Homo sapiens: one gene and its partners. The protein of the gene in region 2 interacts with the protein of the main gene of each other region in a pairwise test. Each region holds a gene or a part of one and is shown on either strand. Other genes may lie near its edges. The genes, in order: ZPBP, ERRFI1, OSTF1 and EFEMP1.

Region 1 (7,815 bases), on a different chromosome or scaffold from region 2:
TTTTAACATAAAATGACCCTTACTTATTATCTTATGAAGTTTTACTCTTAGGTGAGTTTTACAAGTAAGGATACACAGGCATAAAGAGAATAGTAACTAGCCCTGGGTCGTACAGCAACTGAGTTTTTGCCAGAGCTCAAGGCCAGACAGTCTGAGTCTAAAGCCTGTTCTCTAAACTCCTCTGTTTCACTGATTCAGGCAGTGAAATACATGGGACAGATGAGCTCTATACTTGGTTCTGACTTGGTGGTACAAAGTCTGTTAACACCATTTTAGCCCTATGTTAGCTTTGCTAAGCCATTTCTTCAACCTATAATTTCTTAGAATAATGTTTAAAAGTATTCTTCCTATAGCATTTGGCCCTTTCCTTTTCCGATGCTAAAAATGTTGATCTTTTTACATTCCTGCCTGCCAGACAGCTTTTATACAGAAAATAGTACCTGTGGCTTTCCTTTGGAGGTGTTTCTCATCATTTAGAGGAACTCCATTTACAGGAGTTCTTACAGAGAAACCACATGGTGCAGATGTCAGTAAGAGGTCATCAAACCTGCCTCCATGGCTGTGGAGCTATTTATGCAGAGTTTGCTTCATTTCAGCTTCTGTTCTTATTGGAGCCAAAAAATGTACGTTCAAGTACTTAAATTTTTCCCATTTTATTTCAATCCTTAAAACTAACTCTTTCATAATATCAGTGAATTCATTCTTTCAAAGGAGAGAGACAGATAAGGAGGATTTCTATACAATTATCAAAGTGATACATAAATTCCCCTGTGGTAAAACAAGCTTATCCATATATCTAGAATAAATAATGTTATATACTTTGTGTTAATCACTAATGAATGTTCTTTTCTTAAAGAATAAATTTTCTTTTACAAATAAGTTTATAAGGTTTATCATTCCTTTGTTTCTTATAATCTGTAATTTAAAAATAAAACCTTTTTCAGATCATTGTAATTTTGTTAATTTAACTGCCTAAATATTGAATCTTATGTCCATACTCTCTTCCCTTGAGCATTTAAAAAATAGAAAGTTCATGTCACTTCATTTACCTCCAAGTCTTGCTCTGATAGAAATGTCTGGTACTTCCCTGGAATTCCATCTCCTGTTCTGTTGCAGTTCTTCTGATAGAATTTTTTGCCTTTTTATTGTTGTTTGAAATCCTGTGTCTGGTCTGGGAACTCGATGTTGAGGTTTCACATCACTAAAATCCACTAGGGTTGGTATGGTTCTGCCAATGCCAGGATTTAAATCAGCATCACCACCAGGACTCATAAACCCTGAACAGGAATCACCTAAGGTCACATCATCCCGAAGTGGAAATAATGGATAATGTGGCCCATATGGTGGGGGATAAGGATCATGTAAATGATAGTCTGGCAAAACTGAAGGGGGATAAGGGTGAAATTTAAGAAAAGCAGGGTTGCATTTCTTTTCAAACCTGCCATAGTTATGTCTGTTCTCAAGACCTTTCACAAAAGGCATGTTCATTTTTCTTAAGAGATCACAATAGTGTGGGTAATCTATATTCTCAACAGTTCCTGAAAGGATGGACCTTTTAGAGATACTTATCTTTCCAGGTGTGTCCTGAATTTCTACATCCATGGCCTTTTTCTTTAGAATTTTTGATAACTATAAAGTATTTCTGATAATTCCTTTATATTTAACTATATAAACTCTATTGCCAATAACTAAAGATCTGTGTTAAACTAGTATAAAATTGACACAGCTTTCTAAATGTTGGCAGATAATTTTGTTTTTCTTTTTAAGGCAAATATTTTCCTCCACCAAAGGAAGAATAGGGCAATGAAGGAACATGACATAAGGAGAATAAAGCAGAGCCCTTGTTGCCTGGCAACGGCTAGAATTCTTAACACATTGAACCATTTATTATGTACATCACAATTCTTAAGAAAAACAAAAATAGCCTTGGTACTAATATTTCCATGATACTTTTCTCCCCAGTGCTCAGGAAAGCTGTGTTCATTTACTTATTTTAAAATTTTTCCATAAGTTGGTATTTTATGGGTATAAAATATATTTAAGGAGTGTAAATAAAGCAGTTAATTCAGTGACAATACATTTCTCAAAAGTATATATGTGACTACAATTAAGTATTTATATATATAACACTTGCTATCTAATTAAATGTAAATCTAAATGCACTACAAAATATAAACATTACTAAAGTTAAATTGGTACATCTAATTTTTTTTTTTTGGTGGAGTCTCACTCTGTCGCCTAGGCTGGAGTGCAGTGGTGTGATCTTGGCTCACTGCAAGCTCCGCCTCCCAGGTTCACGCCATTCTCCTGCCTCAGCCTCCCAAGCAGCTGGGACTGCAGGCGCCCGCCACCATGCCCGGCTAATTTTTTGTATTTTTAGTAGAGATGGGGTTTCACTGTGTTAGCCAGGATGGTCTCGATCTCCTGACCTTGTGATCTGCCCGCCTCGGCCTCCCAAAGTGCTGGGATTACAGGTGTGAGCCACTGTGCCCAGCCCTAGTATATCTAATTTTTAAGAAAAACAGAAAATTATAATGAAAGTACAGGTACATCTTTACATGCCCTAAATTATCTTTACTTCCCTTAAATTTGCCATGGTGTCCAGAGTAAGAACAGTAAGAGTTTTAAGTTCATTTTAGGAAACCACAATGGGTATCAGTTAACTGTCTACACACAAAATATCATTTAAATCACTAATGTATTGGTTCACTTAAAAGCTCTTTCACCTGGATAATTTCATCTTGCATGAACTACTATAAGAGGAAATGCAAATATTAGAATTTGGGGTAAAAGTTCACATCATCCTTACTGCAGCAAAAATGTTAAAACAGGCAAGATTCTAGCTTTGAAGAGTCAGGCACATAATCGTTAATCAGGCCAACTGTCAAGGGTGATATGTTTGGTACAATCAGAATGCCTATGCCCCATTGAAAGTCTTTACAATTTTGAGATATACTATTAAACAAGTGAGATTAAATTAGGTGGTTAGGCTGTCAGTTTTAAATCCTTCATCCAGATCATAGCATATCAAGTGACAGTTTTTAGTCCACCCATGATCACTCATTTCTTCATATCAAAAGTGATAACTCACTTGTAATTAGGCATTCTACATTTAGTTGCTCAAACTTCATTCTTCAATGTATTTAAACCAACTGCTTAAGATTTATTTCTATCACAGCTCTGCTCCCATTAAGTAAATCCTTCCAGCAGCAGAAAAGTAGAGGCATGAGTCTCTTTCAATTTCTCTAAAACAAGTTCTAGCTATAAATGGCCTCTTAGGCTGTGTATGGGAAAATAATAACCCCCATAACTTTGTACTTAGAATGGATCCTTTACAAGAGACAGATTAACAAGAGAAAAACAGATGTTTATTAATATATTTCATTTATATATGAGGAACACCCAGAGAATGAGTAGTTCTCAAAGAAGCGTCTTTGAATTCCAGCTTGTATAGCATCTTCAACAAAGACTAGGAAATTTTTAGAGATGTGACAAAGGAAAAGGACTCTGAGTCTCTACAGGCAGTAACTTGGGCTAAGCAAACAAATAGCAGACAAAAGATGGTTTAAAAAAAGCTAATATTAATTCCTCTGATATCATTTCAAGGCTAATGAGGGTCTGACGCTGTCTTCAGTGGTTAACCTTTGTTCTCCCTGGTAAAGGAGTGGGGCAGGATACCTTTTCTCTTTCTAATCTATGTCTTGCTTCTGGGTAAAAAGAGGGCAGGTGGACAGCTCTCCTGCATCTGCTGGTTCTTGTCTTCAGGGCAGCAATCCTTCATATTTGAGAAGGTATATTCTGGTCTCCCACACAGGATAGATGGTTTTGTATGTTTTGCTGAATTTAGGTGACACTATAAGATGATCTTCCGGTCTATTTTAGAAAGTAAATTTCATCTATGGTTATTTCCTCTGTCCTTCCATCAAGCTTCTTTCTGAGGCTAAAGGCCTTACTTACCTTTAATTCCCACTAAGTGTGTATTGCATTTATCTCCCAATTAAGTTCCACACATCCATAAAATACTATCTGCTGACATTACTAGATCAAAGCAGTCCACTGAGGGCTTTACACGTCTTAACTCATGCATTCTCACTATCTGTTGTTCGAAACTGGGCCCCACATCTACCACCTGGCTCATAAAAAGGGCTTTTCGATCATAAACGCTATGCAAAGGTAAAAGCACGGGATTTGGGGCCCAACGATTCTCTCTCAGCTCTAGGATCTTGGACAAATCACTGATGTTCTTGAGGATGCCCTGCGTGGCTGTGTTGTCCTGAAGGCCCGGGGGCTGCACAGCACAGTTGGCGCGTGTAGGCCCCACCAGCTATGTGGAGACACAGGCTGACCCCTAGTCTACCACCCCGGCGGAAGTGGGAGCACGTCCATCAGGTCCGTTGTTCCGGTCCTCCGCCCGCCAACTTCCGGCTGCAGGTGGGCGCGCGTTGCCTAACGACCTTCCGCGCGGACGGTGGGCAGGCGACGGCGGCGTGTGGATGGAGGCCTTCGCCCTTGGCCCAGCGCGGCGGGGCAGGCGGCGGACCCGGGCCGCCGGCTCCCTGCTCTCTCGGGCCGCCATCCTCCTCTTTATCTCCGCCTTCCTGGTGCGGGTGCCCTCATCAGGTGAGGGTCCGCGCCGCCCTGCCGGCTCCGCAGGGACAACCGCAGCTTCCCCCACTCTTCGAATTGCCTTTTCTTGTGTCACGTGCATCCGTTTTATATAGAGACACCTTGCTCACTAATACGTGACAAGAAAGGCTTATTTTTTATGGAAGTCGTACAAAGTCACTCTGCATTTGCATAGAGGAGTGAATGACAGGAAATTAAGGTATAGATGGATCACTACGTCACCCACAGTTGAAGTTTTACAATTAAATTGCTTTGTTGATAAACTCCCCAATTCAGTCCATGGGTCATCTGCCAGGTTTGCATTTCAGTGTGTGAACTCTGTAATGATGAGATCAGTGTCTTTCAAATAGGCAACCTGCTGCTTTCAAATTATCCGTGATGGTGGAGCGCCATCTATTGGTTTTAGCTGTGAAATACAGGAAATAATGCGATTTTAAAGTTTTGACCTCTAAAGAATTGAAGTACTTTTCTATACTGTTTTAAAAATACATGTAAGATACTGATGAACAAACACTGACGAAGGATGTGAAAGTTTAATTGAACTGTTATTTAACTAGAAAGGTTTTGGCTGCATTCTAGACTCAAAATTCTAGACCCAAAATTGATAAAATCACAGAGATTTGCTTCAAATGAAAAAAGTTGTTCAAATAAGGAATAATGAAAAAAAGAAGTCCTCCAAGAATATAAATGTAAAAGGTTTGTGGAGGTAGGTAGGGGATAGGGGAGGAGAAAGGAAACAAATGGAGTGAATAGAGATTTAAAAATCAAAGTCCAGGCATCAGGAATCCAAAGATTATTCTTCTATAAGTATATGAATAGCCGATAGCCATCAATTGCCATGTAGGAGAAAGATGCTTCTTGGATATGGGTCGTGGTCGTGTATTAGGTGTGAAAGGGTTTTTATTTTAAATTTTTACCTGGTGATCTTTTGATGAAATAATAAGATTAGACCTATGAGATATAAGAAATAGAATAAGCAGTTAGTATCTTGTAAGTGATGAATAGTGAAGGCCTCTTATATAGCATTTTACAATTTATACAGTATTCTCATTTTCTACAGTAACTGTAAGGATGGAATTATTATTAGTCCCATTTTACATATAAGAAAACTGAAGCTCCTAGAGTTTAAAGTGATTTTCCTAAAACCAGTAAGTGGCAGAATTAGGATTTAAACTCAAGTCCTCTGGCTTTGATACCACATCCTTTTCTTTGCACTTTGCTATTCCTGTCTGCTAAAGGCTATTTGGGTATAATGCTTTATTGCATTTTTATACTGCCCCTCACACTATTATGCCCATCACATTTGCTCATTTAACAATGAAGACTATCAGAATATGTTTCACAATTATTATTTAATATTTACAATGTGCAAGGTATAGTGTTTGATACTGATTCTTGATAAGTTAACATAAACATTGATCCCACTATCAATGGAGCTTATAATCTAATAAGGAAAATGGTATGTGTGTATCAAGAACTATAGTATAAGCCGATGTCTACAAGGGTTTTTCTGATATTATCTTCTAGAATTTTTATAGTTTCAGGTCCTAGATTTAAGTCCTTAATTCATCTTGAGTTGATTTTTATGTAAGGTGAGAGATGAGGATCCAGTTTCATTCTTCTGCATGTGGCTTTCCAATTATCCCAGCACCATTTAGGCAAAGATTTCATGTCCAAGAACCCAAAAGCAAATGCAACAAAAACAAGGACAAATATGTCGGACTTAATTAAACTAAAGAGCTTTTGCACAGCAAACGGAACAGTCAGCAGAGTAAACAGACAACCCACAGAATGGGAGAAAACCTTCACAATATATACATCTGGCAAAGGACTAATATCTGGAATCTATATCTAGAATCTACAAGGAACTCAAACAAATTAGCATGAAAAAAAACCCCAACAGTCCCATCAAAAAGTGGGCTAAGGACATGAATAGGCAGTTCTCAAAAGAAGATATACAAATGGCCAACAAACATATGAAAAAATGCTCAACATCACTAGTTATCAGAGAAATGCAAATCAAAACCACAATGTGATATCACCTTACTCTCGCAAGAATGGCCATAATCAAAAAATAAAAAAAAAAATAGATGTTGGTGTGGATGCAGTGAAAAGGGAACACTTCTACACTGCTGGTGGGAATGTAAACTAGTACAACCACTATGGAAAATTGTGGAGATTCCCTAAAGAACTGAAAGTAGAACTACCACTGGATCCAGCAGTCCAACTACTGGTGTCTACCCGGAGGAAAATAAGTCATTATATGAAAAAGGTACTTGCACACACACGTTGATAGCAGCACAATTCACAGTTGCAAAAACATGGAACCAGCCCAAATGCCCATCAGTCAATGAGTGGATAAAGAAACTGTGGTGTATGGTATATGTGTATATATATATGTGTGTGTGTGTGTGCATGTGTGTGTGTATATATATACACATATATACACATATATACGCATATATACGCATATATATACACAAATATATACACATATATATGCATATATATGCACACATATATACACACATATATATACACATATATACACATATATATACACTCATATACACACACACACACACAAACATAAATATATATATGGAATACTACTCAACTATAAAAAGGAATGGATTAATGGCACTTGCAGCAACCTGGATGGGATTGGAGACTATTATTCTAAGTGAAGTAACTCAGGAATGCAAAACCAAACATTATATGTTCTCATTTATAAGTGGGAGCTAAGCTATGAGGATGCAAAGGCATGAGAATGATACAATGGTCTTTGGGGACTCGGGGGTGGGAGAAACGGTGGGATGGGGGTGAGGGATAAAAGACTACAAATTGGGTTTAGTGTTTATTATGTGATGGGTATACCAAAATCTCAAAAATCCTTACTAAAGAATTTATGTAACCGAATACCACCTGTTCCTCCAAAACTTAAGGAAATTAAAAACAAAGAACTATAGTACAATGTAGAATGAGTGTTATTAAAAAGGTGCTGGTGATGTACTGTGGCAGATAAGAAGTGCTAAGGACAAACGAGGTTTGAAGGAGAAGGGACTTGTGATTTGGGTCTTGAATGGTGGGAGATTTGAACTTCTAATAATGAAGAGATTATTCTAAATGGCTTTAGAAAAAATCAGAGGTGAGATATAATATGGAGAAGCAGTACGTAGATTAAATTTA
Region 2 (6,019 bases):
GAGCACTCCAGCCCCTGCCTCCATCCAAAGGCTGCCAGGAGCCCATTTGTCCACTGTGGACTTGCCATCTCCATGACAGGCCAAGGCAGGTGCAGATTCCTTGGGTGGCCTTAAGCAAGAAGCAAAGCCTGCCAAAGGGCCCAGAGTAACCGGGACCTCGTCCTAAAAATCAGAATGAGTCAAACCAAGTCTACACATCAGAACTGGTTTCTTCTGTCACGTTCTCCTTGATGTGGACTCCCACCCCCAACGTTGTTTCTGATAGTAACCCCAGAATCCAGTTCTCTTTCAGTTGTTAAAGGTAAAAACAAACAGCTCATTTCCACTGTATACTTTCATAATATGTGAAAAAGATTGCACAAATTATGTTTCATTCTAAAGAATAAGAGTTTCAAGAATACATTAAACTTCAAAGAATCTTCGCTTGTGCTTAAAAATAATGCTGTCAAATTGCTTCATACACTTTATAAGACTTTAGGCAAGAAACATTACTAATGGTATCATAAATAAGTATTATAACTTTATTAAAATGAAAAGACAATATTCAAAATAATGCAACAAAATGAATAAAATCCTTTGTCCAATACTGTACACATAATGCAGAAATCAGTGCATTTTTCTTAAGCATGTTTTAACCTTCATTTAGTTCATACTAAAATATAATAAGCTTTAAATAGCTCAAATAATATTCAGCAGTTTAAACTGTAAACAGCTTGTTTAACTGTTAAGAGAACATTGCAGTAATGTACCTCTGTTAGTGAGCACCTTCTCTTCTGTGCTTATCTCTTCAAGATAAATACATGGAAGGATGTGAAAATCGGAACACCAACTATGTGTCTCACTGCATCTAAGTGAAGCAGCCACAGCTGTGAGAGTTTTCAAAGCAGAAAGATGCTGATGTGACCTCTGGAATTCAGACATACTGAGCTATGGGTCAGAAGTGTTTTACTTAAAAAGCAAACAATCCCCAGGAAATACTGAATAGGAACCAGCAACACAAGGCCAGCTTGTGTTGTATGTTTATTAATACAGTCTAAAAAAAAAAAGCAAAACCACAACACACATCCCCAAACAATAACTCTCAATCACATAGCTAATTGCTTCATTATTTTGTAAAACTGACATCCTAACACTGGCACCTAGAATACTTTTCCATCTGAGTCTAACGTACCCCACTGCCTCTAATACGGCCCGCACTACGATGAGCTACTTCAGTGGGTGGGACCAAGCAGGAACTGTAAGGGAAAATTAGTCACTAGTTCTATTATCGTTTTATTTTTCAAGATGTGTGACAGGTACAGGTGACAATATGGTTGCCAAGTAACCTGCTCTCCCTCCCTCAACAAGACGCAACATGAAACCTGGAAGTATGAGGCCTTGGTATGATTTTTAACCTAAGCAGGTACACCCATGGTAAAGAATGGATACCCTGCCCTCCATGGAAAAGATTGCCTGCAAAAATAAATGGAACAAAATAGAAAAGGCCTAAAAGCCAGAAATCTTCAAACTTACTAAACAAAAATATTTTTTAATGATTCTGATCTAAACAATACTGTATCTTCTTCCATTTGCTCAATTTTCAGTCTATCAGGACTCATTTCTCCAGCTTGAGTTTATTATTCTGAATATATATTACTCTACGATAGTAACTAATTGGTTAACCTGCAGCTATGGTCTATGGTTATACCACAAGTTTATATATAGGTATGTAATGTATGCATATATAAAAAGCTTCCCCATCCTCCCCTCCCCACCATCACATCTTTAAATTATAGACTTGTAAGACTTTTTTCCAACACTAACAAAGTCAGGGTTTCTCAGCATAACAGCATCTCACAACTGCTCTAAACCTTCCACATGAAGACAGAGAGTTCAACTATTTTATTTTGCAATCTAAGGGATTTTTCTCTGCACTTCAATCAAACTGGAAAATTGAGAACCATTTGCTCCTATGTAACCTCTGCTGAACCATGACCCCAAGGTCTAAGGAGAAACCACATAGGATAAATGTTTACGCTTCACGTGGCCACCCAGATCCATTTTTGTTTTTGAGTCTGGCTTTTCTGTGGCTGAAGATATACCGCAGTCAGCAGGTAATGGCTGGATTTGGGCGCCTCCATTTGTTTCTTCTGCTTCCCTAAAAAATTTTTCATATTTGTCCAGGTATGGTGGTCGTTCAGGTAGTAGGTAATAATGTGTTGAACTAACCTTCTTCCCATTTTCAATAATGGGCAGAATGCAAGGAACCTTACTGGCAGATCCTTCGCTGTTCTGTCTTTGCAGTGCTTTGCTGCTGACATACTTGGGATCAGGGGCAAAGCTCTGTGTCGGGGGCATGACCCCATTGAGGTAAGACGGAAGGCTTTTGGGACTCGGTGTGCGCGAGTTACTCGGTGACAAAGGTTCTCTTGGCGGTACTTTGGGAGGCCTGTCTTCATCACTATAGGTGCTCGAAGTAACTTCTGCTGACCATCTTCTATAATCTGGCTTTACTGGTCTAGGAGGTATGGGAACTCTGGGGGGAACCTCAGGTTTGTCTTCATCGGAGTTAGGAGAAGCTCTGTGTATACAACAGTTGGATATCCTTATGGCTGGCTTGTTAAAGGAGCCAGCTGGTCCCGAATGAGACCTTCTTAATCTTCGGTGGGTCTGAGGTGGAGGAGGATTTGGATCTGGGACACCTCCATTTTGGTCAGACACATAGCTGAGATCTGCTGCAGAAACAGCTGGGGTATCAAAATATGCATAGTTGATTTGTCCACACCCACGGAAGCTTCGCCTGCCAGGAACATCATATTTGAAATCAGAAAGTGTAGAGTCTTCTAAAAGGAAGTCTGTATCTGAGCTAGTTAGGAATTCCACCTCACAGTCTGTGTCATCCAGAGAGAGGGCTTCAGAGATTGGCAACGGTGGAAGAGGCCTAGAACCCCGTTCACAAAGAGGGGCACAGGGGAAAAGGGAAGGGGAGTTTTTTATGGGTGTCAGTGGAGGGGTGGAAGCACAAACCCCATTCACTGTGAGTTTCTTAAAACCACATACAACTTGATCCTCTTCATGTGGTCCCAAGTTTTCACTTGGGGGAATAAGAAGAGGGGGCAAGCTGGACTTTTGAGATGGACCATTTTCTGCAAAGCAGTGGCCATTCATCGGAGCAGATTTGGAAGCATGCCCTGGAATGAACGAGAGATATTAATAAAAGATCAACAATCCTCTCTCCACCTGTGTGAGGGAGAGAGCACCCCAGCTACCTATGCTTCCACAGCTTTCTTCCTGAGTGAAACACTTGACTGCTGTCACCCCGAGAACACCCATGCAACCACCACAGGTGTAATTAGAGAGCAGAAGATTCTTAACGCACATGGTGTGGTTCAAAGAACAAACTATCTCCTCTATCTCCCTTGGACATGTGCACAGCGCACACCCACACATCACAGGCAAGTTTTGTGACGTGTGTAAAATTCGCGGAAGATGAATAGCATATAATTTACATGAATACCATACTGTACCAGCCTTGCCATTTAAGACATGCGACCATACTAGGCACGTAGGGTACCAATGAGATAAGACAAAGTCCTTATTGCTGGCACATCATAATATTGTGAGTGAATGGACTTGCCTGCAATGTGTTCAGTTCACACACAGCTCTTGACAAAGATCCAAGGAACAGAATATTCACATTAAAAATACTATTTTTTAAGTTTTGAGGAACATTTATACTATTTTCATCTATTACTGTCAAACATGCATTCGATACTAGTAAGAAAGGTGGGAAATCTCGCCTAAGGTTTCATGAAGTAAAGTATGCATCAGAGCTGGAATGAGAACTAATTCTTGATTTTAGAAGATCCCACGTCCATGAACAGTCCTACTTAGCAATCAGTGACTCAGAATGAAGGCAGTCGAGTACAATAGCTTGAGAAAAACACAGTTATCTTCTGAATCTGTTGCCACTAGGGGTCAGGCTGTTGTTGGAAATAGTTCAGGTTTCCTCATTTAAAAAATAATGCTGGAGGACAAGCTAACCCGAATCCAGACTGTTCTTCTCAAATGCTTACTGTGATCAGATTTTCAGAATACATACCAAGTGGTATTAGGCGCTCCTGAGCAGAAGAGTTCAGACTGTAGGCCATGGTTATCGGGTCAATATTTAAAAAGTTGCTGAAAGGAGAGGAAGCTACTTTGGTCATAAGCGAAGAGCAATCACAGCCTCTCCCATTTTAGTGTCACATATTTATCCAGATTACAGCAGCATTACATCCTCTACTTACTTTTTAAACTCACTGCGACTGCTCCAGTAGGTCTTCCTCATATTCCCCATGGCTCGGCCATTATGTAGAAATCCAGTTTTTAATGGGACTCTGATCTCCTGAGCAGCAACTCCTGCTATTGACATTGTGCCTTATTCTGGGACATCTCCAAACCTGTGAGGCCCAGGCACTTTAAAATCAACCAGTAGCTTTCATTCCCTGGGAGGTAGAAGAGATGAGAGAATAAAGAAAACAATTCAGAAATACCTCCATTAGGACAGTCTAAATTACAGCAAAGCTAACAGAGGATTTGGGGGATGCTGAATAGAAAAAATTAGTTGTAGACTTTCACTTAATTCTCACAGCTCGTGAGGGTACTTATATGTAAACACTAAAAATGATTTTTTGTGTAAATGCTAATCCAAAAGACATGAAATGTTTTAGTGAAATGAGAAATAATCTATTGCCAGCAAAAGCAGACCTCCTACTGCACAGCCTGAGAGTTGCACAACAAATCACACTCACTTGGCAATGCACACAGACCCTCCCCTGACTTATTAAACCAGCCTTCTAAGTTACGGCTGCACTGGGCATGAAGCACCAGTGGATCCTGCTTATTTTTCCCAAGCTAAAAAAGTAATTTCAGAAGCCACTGTATTTTATGCTGTAGAACTAATACTCACTAAAACACAATGCTGAAACTAAGCAAGAGTTTCTACAGTATTGGCACCTGACTACCCCAGGGTCTAGCATTTATCTGGATTTTGTATTTCAGGGTTGGCCATGGGGAGACAAATTCTCCAGTTACTACTTGTTCAAGGAACAAACAGTAATATATGAAGATACTAATTTCCATTATCCTGTAAAAATCAAGTTCTGCAAGATTACTGGCTTCAGTAAAAGCCTGGGACAGCTTCCTCCCTCCCTTTTAAAGACAAGTTAAAGGTACATTCTTTACATCCTCCTTTGTGAAACACCCAGTAACTCATATCTTGCTTAGCTGCAAGGCATGGATAACAAAATAAGTACATTTTTCTTAAATTAGTAGTTCCTCAACTTCAGGACCGCCAATCCCCTTTGTCAGATGTTACAGGTCTGGAGTCCCTATAGCCCCCTTTTCACTTTCCTTTTTTATTATTCGTTATGTGTTAGTCAGCATCAATCTCTGCTGTCTTCAGATAGCCAAGTTTATTTATAAGTTTAGGTTTTTTTCCTTAGGCACCAGGATATTATTTGTCAACTATTGTGTAACACTGACCCCTTTTGGGGGCACGTACATATACACTCTTTAACACGATCTCATTCTCTCACTAAATATTAGTAAGGGATCAGTGCAAATAATATCTGCACAGCTGAGTGCTGGGCACTGTGCAAAGGCTGGGCACTGTGCAAATGTGACACATTTGCTGTGGGGGAGAGGTACACAGGTTTTTTTTTTTGTTTTTTTTTTTGCTCAGCAACTTCAAATCTATTATTTACAAATCTGTCACCTCCTACTAGACTAAGCTCAGGACAGAGGCTGTGTCTCAATCACCTTTTAACAATCAGTACCTGGAACATTAGTAGGTGCTCAGTAAGTGAATGTTTGCTGAATGAATGATTGTATAATACCATCTAATTATCATAATCAGTATCAACTCAATATACACATTGTGTAAGGCACAGGGTTTTTTTTTTTAAAGCTAAAAACTTTTAAAAAATACTCTGCAAGTGTTTATTATTATTTTCCCATTAGAAAGGAACACAGTGATAAGTAATGTTCTACAGGTTCA
Region 3 (8,918 bases), on a different chromosome or scaffold from region 2:
TATTGTCTACTGAATTGAGCCATGCTGTTTTGCCCAAATCTTGCTCTGAAAGAAGCTGTAAGAAACATGGCTAGGATGTTCTGTCTTGTATTTCTGCTAGAGATATCCAGGCCACTCCAATACTTTAAGAGAACCCACAGGAAAATCTGTCTCAGATCTCAATGCCATTAAAATAACTACTTTTCAGAGTAAGTGACACATTTTAATTTTATGAGCACTATGAATCTTGAGATTTTTCTCTCTGCTTGCAGCTGAGAGCCAAATCTACAGTGACCTTACTACACATGCAGGTCTGTCTGTAAGCTAGCTTTTCCTCTTGTTTCATCTTACTATTCTTCCCTTCCTCTAGATGACCATGCTTTATCTTTACTTTTTCCTCTCTCTCAGATCATGTGTATTTTTAGAAGTCCTTTTGGAATGAGGCAAGGTTTAAACAAACCAAAAAATTAAATACAACCCCAAAGCCCCCAATCCCATGCTGTCTTTGGAGATTTTTATCCATGCAGCTTGCCTGCAGGACAAGAAAGTAAAGCTCCACACCACTCTCCTTGCTGTCAACCAGGGGCTGACCTTTATGTGCATTTGTGACAAGAAAGTCTGTAGACCAGAGGCCCCTCCCTTTCGACTTCCTGACCACCAGCTCTAAAATACACATTTGACCGCCAGTGTGAATGGAGCACTATGACTTAAGGCAGAATAGCAAATGGTTAAGAGTGCAGACTTTGGCCAGGCACAGTGATCCCACACTTTGGGAAGCGAAGGAGGGTGGATCACAAGGTCAGGAGTTCAAGACCAGCCTGGATCCTGTCTCTACTAAAAATACAAAAAAAAAATTAGCCGGGCATGGTGGCGGGCTGCCTGTAATCCCAGCTGCTCGGGAGGCTGAGGCAGAGAATTGCTTGATCCCGAGAGGCGGAGGTTGCAGTGAGCCGAGATCGCGCCACTGCACTCCAGCCTGGGCAACAGAGCGAGAGTCTGTCTCAAAAAAAAAAAAAAAAAAAAAAGTGCAGACTTCAAAGCCAGACTACCTGGGTTTTAATACTGCCTGCTACATCCCCCACTCTAACTGTTGACTTTAGACAAGTTAAATAACATTTCTGCGCATCTTTATTTCCCCATCTGTGCAACAGGAACAATATAATGGTACTGATCTCATAAGATTGTTGAGAGCAGCAAATGTGTTAACACGTGTAAAGTGACTATACCATTGCCTAACACACAGTAAATGTGGGACAGTACTACGATAGGACATTTCTGTTTTTGTTTTTTGTACTCTGTTGAGACGGGGTCTTGCTATGTTGCCCAGGCTAGTCTCAAACTCCTAGCCTCAAGCAATCCTCCCACCTCAGCCTCATAAAGTGCTAGGATTACAGGCATGGCCCACTGCTCCTGGCCATCGCTTTTTTTTTTTCTTCAACTAAGCTAGCCCACACAAAGTTTCAACTCTGATTGGCAGTAATGTTTCTCACTGTAAATTACTAAACTGGCAAACCCATTTCTATGGTAACTTTGTGTCTGGATCTCATTTGTAAATTAATGTTGATTCAAAATTCCCTTTATCCTGAATCAAGGACCAGATAAAACAAATTAAAATAAAATAAAATGCAAAGTTCCCTCTAAACACCTGTCATGTTTAACCATAAGCTTTCTGATGTGAAGGAGAAAGGAGGTTCCTGGGAATGTATCCACAATTAGTAACAGGATGACCCTTAAACCCCCAAGTGTGAATGAACCCACATGTATACATTACTGTGTACACACACACACACACACACACACACACACACACACCTGTCAATGTCCCTCCATTTGCAATATAGACAGCATTTAATACGCATGAAGAGATTTTTAAAAAGGGCATTCTTTAACGTATTTCAACTGGCAGCAGGTGATCAGAAAAAAATAAGATAAATAAAATATTGTTTAGCTATCAAAGAACAACTCTGCACTGTTAGATACTTAAGGTCCTGATTTGCACCTGAGTTTAGAAAGCTACCTCATACATATGCACTTAAAATGGAAATTTCTCATCAGATTCCACATCTAATGCAATGCAGAACCCAACTCTAGCTGTGCCCCATCTTTGCCCAGGGCAGAGCCAGTCTCAGCAACTTCCTTCACACTCAGCCCACCAAGATGTCAGTCCTCAGTGAAGCACTATTCCACATACGTACGTACATGATTATCAAATAAAGGGACTTCATACTCCAACTGCAGGAACGCAAAGAAACAAAACTAGATAAGTATGAAAGCTATAGAGTTTAGGAAAATCAAGGAAAAAAGTAATCACTGAAACTCATCTCTTGCAAAGAAAGTTACTTCAAAATTTGACGTAAATGGATTAAATTTCAGCATTTCGCTATACCGAAATTACACTATGGGAAGAAAAAACCCAAGAATACATCGGAGCCATTTATCTTCCATTTCCTGTATTTCCCTTAATTACCTACCCAAATGAATGCACGTAAGAGTTGTTAAAGTATTGAAATACGTCAGTCCTTTCTAATTACCTACCCAAATGAATGAGCGGAACAGTATGTTACAACTTTTAATTAAAATACGTCAGTTTCTTTTACAATTATCTTATTTCTGCATATCACAGAAAATATTCTAAGAACAGAGCAAAAATGAACAAGGACAATCCGCCCAGAAAACTGCTTTGAGGAATTTAGTAATCTCAGCCCTCTCAGGTTTAGCACGCCAACGTCTTTGGGAGAGCAAAGGCAAAGGAGATGATAAAATGACACTTCCAAATAGCAACAGCTGAGATCACTGCCGCATCCTAGATTCTTTCCACCAGGAGCGCGAGTATAGGGTTTTTTTCTAAACGCTCTTCCCAAGATCCCGAGGTCAATTTCAAACGCTGCTCCACGCTTAAGTCCCGAGGGAGGCTCGCTCGCCCACCCCACCCTGCAGGGATTGCACTTCCCGTTCGCTCTGGCCGGTCAGGAACCCTAACTTGACAGTGACAAACACTGAGAAAAGAGGAAGTGGCTAAAGATCATTTCATGACATTTTTTAAAGGGAGATCAATGGCCCTGTCTTTCCGGAAAACTTCCATGGGACGTTGCCATCACACCCTCTGAAAGTTTCAGCGAATGACAACGTAGCAAAAGTGAGGGCTACTCCCCTTTAAATATATATATATATATTAATCCTCGAAATCCTCTTGCTATCAAAATCGATCCCTCCTCCGTAACAGCGAACGCAAAACTAAGAGCGCCCATCCCGGTGGGGCCGATCTCGGAAGCCAGGCTCGGGGCCGGGTGCGCGCCGGGTCCTCCCTGCCAAGCTGCAGAGGAGGCGCCGGCACCGCGGCGGTCGCAGGACCTGGCAAGCGCCTACCTTACCTCCCTCACCTGGTTTGACTGGTTTGGGTGGCGGCTTCGACATCTCGCTTCCTGGAGCTGCAAATCCTAAAGACCCCGCCGAAAAGCCCACCGCTTGCCCGCCACCTGGCACTCCGGGCACCCCAGTTCTTTTTGTCTGGCTTACAACCGTGCGCCTCCTAGGACCGGCGCCCACCCTTGGCTGCGGGAAGAGCGGACGCAGGCAGAGCGGCTCCGCCGAGTGCTCCGCCCCGCCCCGCGGCCGCCGGAGCAGTCCAGAGCGCGCGCCGGGCCGACGAGGAAGTGGACCCCGCCTAGCCGAGCGCTAATTGGCTCCCGGGCTGGCAGCTTCGCCGCAGCAGGAGCGCGGGCGGCGCGCACGGCGGCGGAACCAGCCGGAGCCGAGCGAGGGCGAAGCGGGCGTGCGCCAGTGCAGTGCCGCGGGCCGCGCGCGCTCCCGATAGGGAAGGGCCGGAGCTGCGCAGGGGCGCGCGGAAGAGGCCAAGCTAGCCGGAGCCCCGCCCCGCCCCGCCCCGCCCCAACGGGGGCTGGAACCCGGCGCCGAGAGTAGAGAAAAGGGGCCTCTGGTGACCGCCCCTACCTGGCATCCCTCTAACCCAGGAGGAGCGTGGGGAAAGGGGCTGTGGGCCTCTCGGGGAGCGAGCTGCGGGTAGCGGCGCACTGGGTACAGGCGCGCGCTTGGCTGTCGCCTCTGCCGCTGTGTTTGGGAGGACTCGAACTGGCGCCAGGTGAGTGCGTACCTGCTCGCCCCTGCCGCGCCGCGCCGCCTTGCTGGGGCCTGGAGGTGTTTCCAGAGGGTTTCTGTGCTGGAGCCCGGGACTTGGTTGCGCCCTGAAAGCCTTGCCTGGACTCTTGCCACCCTCACAGAGCTGATAGGTGGCCTGCCGAGGAGGACGTGTACTCATGGTGGCGTGGTGCTCTAGCGCCCCGGAATAATCCTGAAAATGGGAACGCTGCCTCCAAGAGACCGCGCAGCCTGGAGAAGTCGCCAGGGACAGGATCAGGACTTGATCCTCGCGGATCGATATGGTCTCATTCCTCTAGCGTTGGGGTGATGACCTACTGCCCGCCTGCTGCCTGTTACTGTAAGGCCTGCTAAGAATTTTTTTTTTTTTTACTTTTTTTAATGACTGAAAAGAAATAAAAAGAAATATAATACTTTGTGACACGTGAAAATTACATGAAATTACGATTTCAGTGTCCGTAAAATTTTACTGGAACACGGTCACGCTCATTTGCATCTGTGTTTTCTGTGGCCGCTTTCGCATTACCCAGCAGGGTTGAGTAGCAGCTGGCAAAGCCCAAAGCATTTCCTGTCTGGCACTTTACAGAAAAAGTTTTCCTACCCCTGATCTATCGGATTGAATCTTCGGTGGGAGGAAAGAACTGGAGCACACAAGGAAGCCAATGGCATAAGTTCAAAATAACAGTCAATATTGTAAATTAATTGTATATTTGGGGAAAGAAAAAACTGTTTACCTAAGAACCTACATAAATGAAACCAATGGGGGAGGGGCATGAATTGCGTTTTCAAAAACCCCAGCCCTTCACGTCTGTAATCCCAGCACTTTGGGAGGGCAAGGCGGGTGGATCACGAGGTCAAGAGATCAAGACCATCTTGGCCAACCTGGTGAAACCCGATCTCTACTAAAACTGCAAAAAATTAGCCGGGCGTGGTGGCAGACGCCTGTAGTCCCAGCTACTCGGGAGGCTGGGGCAGGAGAATCACTTGAACCCAGAAGGCGGAGGTTGCAGTAAGCCGAGATTGCGCCACTGCACTCCAGCCTGGCAACAGAGCGAGACTCTGTCTTAAAAAAAAAAAAAAAACCCAGCCTTGAGGGATTTGTTTACCAAAAGGGAGCAAAGTTTAAACAATAGTAGGAAAAGACTGCCCTATCTCCTGGAAGAAGAGAATCAAAATAGCTGTTGGATAGAATACAGAGTAAGAAGTCCTGGAAACATTTTTCTCTTTTTAAAATATCAGACTGTCCTGTAGATACATTTGAAGAGCACATTTAGCTTTGTCAGCTGTCTTTCAGATCATTTGCGTTAGAGAGCTGCGTTAGAGAGTTCGTACAATCTGCTGATTCTGCACATGCCACTTCTGACCATTCTGCAGTTTAGAATCCAAAAGGCAAGTGTTTAGTAGTGAAATGAATTAAGCATAATAAACACACCTGAATTATTTTAAAAAACCCAACATTTTACTTAGGGTTAAAAAAAAGTGTAAAAAATAAAATTAGTCATTTCAGGTTTGCTCTTGGCTATCCTAGTTTGTTCTCCTGCTATGCAAAAGCTCTCCGCTGTTGAGGAAAGCCTTGCACGCACTGGGAAAATAAACTACACAGATATTCCATGAGATTGAAGGTGGTGTGGATTCTAGTGATAGACGTGCCCTGAAATGATGACTCTTTGGACACATCACATGATTTACAGTTTGTACGAAGCTTGCATTTGCTTCATGAAGCCTGGCAACTCAATTGCGAGCTTTTTAAATTTGATTTTTTGTTTTGTTTTTGGTTTTATGGGAGGCAGTTTTTGGGTTGTTTTTTGCCTGTTTGTTTTGGTTTTTTTCAAGATAGGGTCTCGCTGTGTCACCAAGGCTGCAATGCAGTGGCACAGTCATGGCTCACTGCAGCCTTGGTGATTTTTTTTATAGGGGCAACAGGCAATGAAATAGTAGAATGTGATGTGGAGGTGGACAGTGCCAGGCCTGAACTTGGAGCTCCCCTAAAGCTGCCCTGTGCATCCACACTGTTTTTGAAATAAATGCCTTCAGGGATTGCTAGGCCCACCCCCCACCCCGCCCTAGTCACTTAGCCCAGTTGCCTCTCTTGTCTCTGCATGTTCCAGTTACCCACCCTTCCCATCACATTGTCACTTGCTCATAGCTGATAGGGTATGCCCAGCATTTACCCAAACACTGGCTTGGACAGGCCCAGACTGCTAACTAATGTAGAACTGGGAGTTCCTGTTTTGGTTAAAAAAAAAAAAAAAAAAAAAAAAAAACTTACATTTGACTGTATCTGAGAGATTTTATAAGTAGGTTTTTTATGCCATCTTACTCCTGGTTCCTGAATGCAAGTAACCCCCTCAAGCCTATTTCCCATGCCACAACCATGCTCACTTGTTATTTACATGCCATGTAATTGATGCAATGGTCACACGTGTAACCACAGATGTGGCAGTTTAGGACGGGGACCAGTAGTCCTTTCCATTCTGTGTGCACAGCAAATAGATGCCCCATCAATAATACATCAGTAAGAATGACATCAATTATACATCAGAGCCTGACAATTAAGCTAGCACATACCTAACACCCTTTCTTTGCTGTTAGTAATAAAGTGCTTTTTAGCAGCTTGGAGTGATAGAAAGAAGTCAGCTCAATTGGTTTAGTTTAATATCTGGCTTTTCCACTTACTGTCTGTGTGACCTTAGGCAAATTGCTCTATTGTCTGAGCCAGTTTCCACTTATGCAAAATGAAGGGGTAGACCAAGTAATCGCTAAAGCTATACTTCTCCAAGTTTGAGAATTTATGCTTCAGCGAGCTATCCAAAAATAATGGGGGCAAGGAATGACAAGGTTTTATGAATTTTTATTTTATTTGGTAAAGTGAGGATATCACTCTACTAACATCTTCTGACAACATAGTTTTGTAAGAGAAAGAACATTTATCACCACAAAAGTGAGATAAAGAGCAGCCTCTCCCTTCCCAAAAAAAGGCTAATTGGCAGCATTGAACCGACATACCAAAAAAATAAGAATAGGGTAAAATAAAATTCAAAAGCAGAAAAATTACAACATAAAAATGTATTTTACAATATTCATTGTATGCAGTCATTCCCTCGATACATCTTGTAAATTTGGATGGAGATGTGTATTCAACAACATAACTCTGGATGAAACTTAAATATGCAACTTGTCTGCTATTTTATTTTATTTTTTAAGACAGGGCCTCACTCTGCCACCCAGGCTGGAGTGCAGCGGCTCAATCTCCACTCACTGCTACCCCCACCTTGTAGGCTCAAGCAATCCTCCCACCTCAGCCTCCGAAGTAGCTGGGACTACAGGAGCATGCCACCATGCCTGGATAATCTTTTGTATTTTTGGTAGAGGTAGCGTTTTGCCATGTTGCCCAGGCTGGTCTCAACCTCCTGAGCTCAAGCAATCCGCCTGCCTTGGCCTCCCAAAGTGCTGGGATTATAGGCATGAGCCACAGTGCCCTGCTGCTATTTTATCACAGTCATTATTGATTCTTGTCTCACATAGACTTGTTAATGGAAGTGGACCCCAGTCTTAAGCAATTGTACTCAATGTGGGATATTTAGATAAGCCAAGAAGTCAGACAACAATAGCCCTCTTCCCACCAGGCTTTTTTCTGCATAACCCCTCCCCAGGGAGAGTGTGGACACAGATCATAGAAACTGGAGCATTGCTGGGAGCCTCCAGCTTGGCAGGCAGCCGCTTGCCCCTGGCTACACGGCCTAGGTCCCTGGCAACCCCCCTGAGCAGATAGGAAGGAAGAAGAGTGGCCTTCAGGGATGACCTTCAGGAGCCACTATTCTAAGATTCCCTCCAGCTGTGCTTCACCTTTTCACTTAGTGAGAAAAATGGCCCATTGTAATAACCAAGGACTACTTTAGTGAACGTTAGGGAGGCATGTATGAAACTGCCCTCCATCCCCTAAACCAAAAATCCACAAAACAGTGGCCGGTGGCTTAACTTGGCCCTCTGCCTGAACATTTGCAGTTTCATGTAGAAAGCACAACAGAAATCCAATTAAGAGAAATGATAGCCCAATAAAAGGGAATTTCATTCTTGTCATTAGTAGACCTGTTAAAAAAATTATGATTATATGTTGAATTTCATCAAAAAAAATTGTGAAAATGTTTTTTCTCTTGTTATATAAGTCCATACATAACAACCTAGATTTTGCCTCTTGGCCCACATAGTGTCAAATATTTACTGTCTGGCCTGTTTCCAAAAAAAATGTACCTAGCCAGGCCCAAGACCTAGGCTTTTGGGTGAAGAAATAGTGTCTTTAAACGGCATTAGCTTCATTTTGCCTCTGGCCAGCAGTAACTTTCTTCTTGTCTCATAAGGGCAGTATCTTTAAACGGCATTAGCTTCTTTTTGCCTCTGGTCAGCAGTGACTTTTTCCTTGTCTCATGAGGGGAGAAAGAGGCCAGCCCACAGGGGTCCCTCCCTCACTGATAATGAGTCATACCCAGGCGACTGAATCGTGAAGGTGGAAGGCAACCTGGCTAAGGAGAGGATGAAACTTCATATACCACGCTGTGGCCTAGCAGTTCTTCCACGCCCAGAAAACAGACGTTCAAGGGGGAGTGCTCCGGCAGGTCACCTGACGTTGAACTGTTTGACAGTCCTGAGCACACCCCAGTGGTTGGCACTCAGTGGTAGCAGGGGAAGCCAGTGCGGCGGGAATGTGGATAATGCGGGGCTGGGCTGAAAGGTCACTGTCATCCTCCCCTCTCAGCTGGTGCTCCTAATTTAGGATTCTTTTATCTCCCTAGACATCTAAATGAAATGCATTTGATTTGTTTGTT
Region 4 (7,252 bases), on a different chromosome or scaffold from region 2:
ATTCCCTGGGGAGCCATAGACAAGACCGGTTTTCTTGTTTAAGAGGGAAAAATGTGTTGGAAGAAGGTCTTAGGCTTTTTTTCTTTAACTGTTGCTATTCCCAGCTCTCACTTGAGAGCTGTTTTTGTATGTAGGAAAATCACTAGATTGATTAAAAATGGAAACATTTAGATCAAGCTGTAATTTATCTTGACTGTAAGCAACCATGTAGACAGGGTAAGAGGAATGAACTCAACAGTCTTGCTGTGTTGTGGCTGGTTGTTGACTCTGCTTCTGTGCTGTCCCTTGGTCAGATCTGTTCTCTCTCCACTGTTTCTGTGCCCCTTTAACCTTTAAGAGCCCATCCCCTACTCTCACAGAAGGAGTTTGTGTTTTGTTCCTTGGGCTTTTGCTGAACTTTCTTTTTGGCAATTTCTGCACATGAGTCAACTCTTTGAGAGGTATTTGTTTTAGCAGCAAGATTACCTGGTGACAGAGGTTATGCATATATGCTGTGAAACTAGACTTAAGAAAAAGTTGGCTGTTTTGTGGCATGATTTTAACTGTATTTTTGCTTCCTCATCTCCCAGTTTATTTATTAAAAAAAAAACCTAATGGTAGTTCTTGTGCTGGCACCTATAACTGATGTTTATCCCAGATATAAAAATTATATTGGGGGCTACTGACTACACTGAAAAACCTCCAAAGATAGAGTGATCTTCTAAAGGAATATTTATTTTTATTTAAAAATATGATACATCAAAGTAAAGCAGTGACATTTTAAACAAGGAGACGTATAAAATATTCCATAGAATTGGGTAGGAGGGTAATTTGCTTAAGTTCACTGTCACTCTGGATGCCAGGAATAAAAACCATCATCATTTTCTTCCTCTGTGAGCATCAAGTACGAAGATGAGAAATTTTAGTTATAAATTAGTGAAGTGTTAGGATTTAAATTTTACTTAGAAATTAAAACTTCTCCAGTGAAATACCTTTTATCCATTTTGTTCTGCATCTTGTGGAAGTCCTGAATTCAGGGATGTTATTATATTTTCCGAGTTTGCTTCTTCAGGTCAGTTCCAATGTGGTTTAGAAGGAATTTATTTTCTCATATCCTCCCCATAGATTTCTCAATAGTATAATTTTCTAGGGGATATCTGGTTCATTTTGGGAATTCTGGAAAATTTTGCTTACTGTTTTTTACAAAATATTCACAATCTAAAATTTCTGACAAAATTAAAAATACCCTACAGAAACCAGCATATTGTACAGCAATGATTTATTACTATATAATAAACAACCACCTTTAGGCTGGATATGAAAATAAAAACCAACACAAATATGGCAGATCCCCATTTTCTAAAGAAATATATCTTTATTGACCTTTTCCATTTTCTTACAAAGCAGTTAAAAACTCATTCTTACCCTTGCATGCTATTCAATGGTTATGATGGCTGCCTCCTTATGAGACTGTTAGTGGAGCTCTAGTAAGTTTCCTTAAGCACCACAGAAGATCATCATTGCTTGGTCCCACTTTTATAGGAAAGAATCCAAGTTTCACCAGATAGTGTATACTTAGCTCTCTTGAAGAAGACCAGTTTAGTGGATTAATGTCTAATTTACATATAGTAATAAAGACAAACTTTGAATCTTTACATATTAAATGCCCACTTTATACCATGGTGTAATTGTTTGAATTATGGGTGAGTGTACAGTATAGAGATGTAGATGCACTAGATATATCTATAAATAAAATAGTGCTTTAAGGTAACAATATTCTTTGGCTGACTTAAATGCCTGTGGTTGACTCTTAGAAAAGACTAAAATGAAAATGGCCCCACTATTATTGTCAATCTTAACACAGAGCTTGTGCGGAAGGTCCCTATACTGCTGACTGTCAGCATCTCCAGGTCCACGATATGTTCTCTTGGTCCTGATAATGACTTCACGAGCACAAGCATTGCACTTACAGGACTTGTTTGCTAAAATAAAAGAAAATAGAGAAAGGAAGAGAATAATTTTCTTGGATTGGAGTTTCTATGCTTTGTTAGTATACCTCCTATAAGAATTAGGGGGAGAATTTTGAAGGTGGTATAAAAGAGCCACTACTTGGTCCCTTCTTGGTTTCAACTCTTCTTGGCTCTTATCCCTTGTCTAATACAGTCATTAGCTCCAAGTTTCAAGGACTTGCTTTTTTTTTTTTTTAAATAGTTCTTTGTTTTTGATTCCTCCCTCTCTGTTAACATTTTTCTTCACTTTTATTGAGTAGTTGTGGACTTTACAGAGACTAGAGCTTAAGTGAGAATCTGATAATTTCTAAACTTGTAAACAAAGTTGTCACTTTTCATTTTCTCAACATTGTGCATCTGTTTACATTCTAGTAAGTAAAGAGAAATGGAAACAGTTTTTCAACAGAATATGGTAAATGCTAAGATATATGAGGTTATGCAGGGTACGTATGAAGATACATAAAGGTGTATGTATAAAGGGAAGAAAAGGAAGAGCCCTGAAGCACTGAGGGAAAGCTTTTGAATGCCTGATGAGAGTCACCAGGCATAAATGAAAGTTTTGTAAAGTAATATGTTCAGAAGAACTGGGTGCAGTTTCATTTTGATGAATAATATGATGGGCTCTTGTGAGTGGAGGGAGATGAGGTTGGAGAGGCAGGTAAGTGGATGTGTGAGTTTGAATGCCAAGGGATAGAGTCATGGATTAGTATTTAGCAGTCACCTCAATGGGTGGACATTAAACCAAGGGAGAGAATGCTTTGGTTAGGGCTACTTGTTATATACTCATGAGCAGCTTGCAACCCTCTGCTGCAGCAGTCAACATCTTTCTGATCACTTGTTCAATGTCTTGACTACAAGCTCCACGGGGGCAGGAACTGGCTTGGCTTTATTCATTGTTGTGTCTCCAGGATCTTCCACGGTGCATACCTCTTGTAAACAATAGTTGTAGGTAATAATAACACCTTGAAGGTGTTGATTGAATTAATTTATTCATTTAAATTTTATTTTAGCATCTGCTATGTGCCAGGTACCATTCTATGTGCTGAGGATAGAATACTGAACCGACAGGTGTAGTCTCTGCTCTCATTATGCTCATATTCTAGTGGATGACACAGTTCAGTGAATACTAGACTAGGTAGTGATAGGGCTATGAAGAATAATAGTAAGGCTCAGTAAGGGAGCAGAGACACTGGGGCAGTGTGGGGGATGTTGGATATTCAACCTTCAATTTCATGTACTTTCTTTACAATACGTTCTCTTTTCCAGGGAAGATGGTTTTCTCAGTATTTTCTCAAAAGGAATATAAATAAAATTTTATATTCCACATATCCTTTCAAGAATCAGGCTGACTCATGACTATCAAGAAACCTTCTTTGACAGCCCACATTGATTTTTTGATGTATCTGGACCATGGAATTAAGCACAAAATTGCCCCACTTCTATTTTCATAGATGTTAACTTTTTCTACACAATAATATTTAAAGCTCCTTGAAATCAGAAAATGTGCATTACATGTCCTTTTAATTCCTCATGACACCTAGCATAGAGCTGAGCATGTAGTAGGTGCTTAATTAACCGAATTAATTAACCTAACTAACCTGCTGTTGATTTTCATGCGTTTCAATGCCCTCTGCACAAGTAGAATTTTAGTGGAGAAACTCTGTAGGATTTGATCCAAGTACTTTTTGAATTATGTGATAAGAAATAGTCTTGAAATGTCTATTTTTATTATTTTAAATAATTTTCTTTCAAATAATTTAACATTAACTCTGGAAATATCAAAATTGGCAATGTTTTCTATCAGTCATGAGAATAAGGATTTCACTGGAGAAAAACACTGTATTTTGATTTGAAAATATGAAGTCGGTAAGTGCACTGATATGAATAATAAATAACTGTAAAAGTGCCATGTTTAATTGCAAAGAAAAAACATGTTGGAACTTTGTTTCACTCTTTGATTATTCTGCTAGAAAATTTTATTTTCTTACATTATGGCTAAAAGTTCAAAATAGAAAATTATTTTTAAAGATTTTGTTATTTAAAAATAATGTTATTTGTTTAGGCTAGAATTAGTTAATTGGTAGTATCTGAATTGTGTAAAATTCATTCAGTGGAAATTTCTTACAAATATCAAGAATATGTCAAATTTAAAATATCAAATGTTAAAGAACTATAATATATTCTTTTTTATTCAAAAAAATAATTGTAATAGATTGCATTTTGCATTGGGTCTTTCTTTTCAGAAGTTGGTCATGAGAAATTAATCATTTTCTAATATACTGGCAAAGAAATAATATCACATAACTCTGGAGCTATATGGGAAATTAATATATCAAAAAACAGGATAAATGGGTAAACATTAAAAATCTGTAAACTGTACCACAAGGATGAATTTCCCAATTTAATTCATATTCTCAAAATGAAATATTGGCTTTAAAATTTGATTAAAAATAAAGAGTGCCCAAAGGAGTTTTGAGAAAATTGTAACTGGATGAATAACATCATTAGCATGAAACAGTTACCGTAACTCTGCAAACTGCTTGGTAGGGTGCCATCATTTTCACATGAAGTGGTGAGCCGTATTTAAAATATGTCCAAATTTTAACCTAAAATGAACTTGCTGAGATTTTGTAGGGAGACTGGAAGGCTGAGGCTTTGGGGTCAGGGAGACCAGCTCAGAAGCCACTGAAGGGATCATGGAAGTGACGGGAGCCAGTTTATAGGAAGAGAGATAGGGATGTGAGGAAGCAAAGATAACCCAGGAGACAGTGTGAAGAGGGAAATGGCAGAATTCAGAAAGTAGATTTCACACAGGCAATGAAAGATAGGGAGATGACTCCATACTGCCAGCCCAGAAGTTGGCAAGAATGGTACAACTACTGACACATACTGTGCGGGGAGGTGGGGTCACTTCTCACATACTTATAGGTTTTAGTTTCGGTGTGAACACAAACTGTCTTGTGAATGTAACAATGATGAATTCATGATGTCTGAAAAACTCTTTAGGAGCTCCAGGAATTATTTTGGGTTTGAATTATATGTATGTCTATGTATAATTAATTAACCATCAATGATTAGTGATACCTACTTGGGGGGTATGTTGGGTGGGGGCAGAGGCGGGGGGATGGGAGGCTTGTATTTTCGTGGTCACACACAACTCTATCAGAGTCTGCCAAACTTAATATTTGAGTGATTTCAGGGATGCTACTTAATCTTTCTGCATCTCACTTTTCTCCTCTGTAAAAAATGGAGATGAATATTAATATCTATCTGGCAGTGTTACCAAGAGGAATAAATGAAATAATGTAGCTGGAAGGCCTTACACAATGCCTACACATAAGACACTTTAAATGTTTGCTTTCCTTCCACATGTGGATACCACACAACAACAACAACAACAACAACAACAACAAACTCCCATCTTTCTCAATAGTTAAGGCTGCCTTCAGGATACTTACTCGTAGGTAGAACTCTCCATTTTCATTTCCAGATTTAATCCGAAAAGTATTGATGGTGTTGGCATAAATAGTTGTGGCCTGTATCTGGAAGATGTCTGATGGCACAGACCTATCAGATCGGATGCTCATGTATTTGTAGACTATTGACTGGGGCAGTTCTCGGCACATGGCATTTGAGACTGGGCAAACACATCGGCTGCAGAGACAAACAAAAGTATTCAGCAGTTTGGCTTGGTAAGACCAGAAAATCCTCACTTTCAAAAGTTCTGATTTTTCTTACTTCTCTGGTGTTAGAATGTAGGGATCTTGACAAGGATTTCGTGGATAACAACGGAAGCCGCCATGATAATTCCAACACATTTCATCCTCCCGGCATTCATTTGTGGTCTCACACTCATTTATATCTGTAGAGATGTAGGGTCAAAGAGTTTACTAACTAAACTAATGAACTGATCTAATTAAATCATATAACTGGCAGATTCTGTTTGCAAGGAAGGAGGTGTGAGAGCATCTGGACTGTGTTCAACCTGCTTTTAGACACAAGACTGGGTGTTCATTGTATTGAATTCAGGACAGACAGAGCTGAGACATTCTAGGCAGATTAATATGTGTCATTTCATGATATTTTATCAAGCACCTATTGTTCATCTGTTGAATTCAAACCCCAATGTTAACCACTGACTCTGCCTATATAAAAGTTAAACACCAGTTCTTGTCATCAGGGACATTATAATTGAGGGAATGTGTATATGATTACTTAGAAAGTAAAATGGAATTAAGTAAGAGATAGATAAGTATACTGGGGCATGTGGAGCAGAGTTGGGTAATTTTGCCAGGGGGATTAGGGAAGGCTGAAGGAAGGAAGAGGCATCTCAACGTGGCCTTGAAGGGTGGTGGTTAGATGGAGTTTTCATGGCTGGGGCAGGGAAGGCTTTCCAAGCTGAGAAATCAGGAAGCATAAACTATGGAGGGCAGCTTATCATCTCTTTCAGGAACTTGGGAGAAAGGTAAAGGCTAGAAATCTGGTTTCAGTAAGCTGAAGCATGCTGGGAGTGGATTATACTGTCCAGAGGAAGCACAGCACAGGAAGTGAAACTATGAAGTGTTCCACCTCATAGAGCATAGCAATTTTAGGACTGTAAGGAAAAAGAGGAAGTTAAGGAAGAGGCTGTCAGTGCAGGGAGACAACCCAGGAAAAGGCAATGCCAAAGAAGTCAGAGGGAGAGAGAATCCTGGGAAGAAGGGTTGTGTTTACCTCAGGCTGGACAAAGATTGACTTTAAATTTGGGAATCAGAAGCCTCCAGATGACATCTGAGAGAACAGTTTTACTAGAGAGCCATTACATTTATAACAACAACAACAACAACAATAAAAATAAAATTAATATCTACATCTCTATGTCTGTCTCCCTTTACATTTGAATAGTGATTTATATTTTATTCAATGTAAACTTTTTCTGAATCATTCCTTCTCCACAATGAGATATTTTTATTCATGAATTTACTCATTCCATAAGTAATTTACTGAATCCTTGCTGTAAGCCAAGCATGGGCTAGGTGCTGGGATATGATCTCTTTTGAATTCTCATACCCGGTGTTCTTTTTTAAGGGCCTTTATTGCTTTCTGCTTTGCATTATTGCAATCTGCATGTCTAGCTTAACCCTTCTATTAGCTTGTAAACTCCTTGAGGGCAAGGGTTATTGTACCCATCTTTTAATCCTTTCATCACCTAGCATTAATGCAATAGAGCATCTGGCTTTTAAGAAATATTAAATTGAACTAAGTTGCTCTTCACACAAACTGTG

The links.
Region 1: the proteins of ERRFI1 (region 2) and ZPBP interact in a two-hybrid assay, tested with the Homo sapiens proteins (one study listed by BioGRID).
Region 3: the proteins of ERRFI1 (region 2) and OSTF1 interact in a two-hybrid assay, tested with the Homo sapiens proteins (one study listed by BioGRID).
Region 4: the proteins of ERRFI1 (region 2) and EFEMP1 interact in a two-hybrid assay, tested with the Homo sapiens proteins (one study listed by BioGRID).

Annotation. Positions count from the first base shown.
Region 1 is NC_000007.14:50,089,873-50,097,687, reverse strand, and holds the start of ZPBP (zona pellucida-binding protein 1 isoform 1 precursor), read left to right. Parts: upstream 1-4,441; 5' UTR 4,442-4,493; coding exon 4,494-4,620; intron 4,621-4,666; exon of another isoform or gene 4,667-4,825; intron 4,826-7,815. Other genes in the region: protein SPMIP7, read right to left, coding at 1,050-1,602.
Region 2 is NC_000001.11:8,011,227-8,017,245, forward strand, and holds the end of ERRFI1 (ERBB receptor feedback inhibitor 1), read right to left. Parts: exon of another isoform or gene 4,467-6,019; 5' UTR 4,394-4,466; coding exon 4,269-4,393; intron 4,175-4,268; exon of another isoform or gene 4,159-4,174; coding exon 4,082-4,158; intron 3,171-4,081; coding exon 1,984-3,170; 3' UTR 501-1,983; downstream 1-500.
Region 3 is NC_000009.12:75,083,168-75,092,085, reverse strand, and holds the start of OSTF1 (osteoclast-stimulating factor 1), read right to left. Parts: upstream 3,573-8,918; 5' UTR 3,394-3,572; coding exon 3,360-3,393; coding exon of another isoform or gene 3,351-3,359; intron 1-3,350.
Region 4 is NC_000002.12:55,865,274-55,872,525, forward strand, and holds the end of EFEMP1 (EGF-containing fibulin-like extracellular matrix protein 1 precursor), read right to left. Parts: intron 5,851-7,252; coding exon 5,727-5,850; intron 5,643-5,726; coding exon 5,447-5,642; intron 1,962-5,446; coding exon 1,800-1,961; 3' UTR 694-1,799; downstream 1-693. UniProt on the Homo sapiens protein: Binds EGFR, the EGF receptor, inducing EGFR autophosphorylation and the activation of downstream signaling pathways. May play a role in cell adhesion and migration. May function as a negative regulator of chondrocyte differentiation.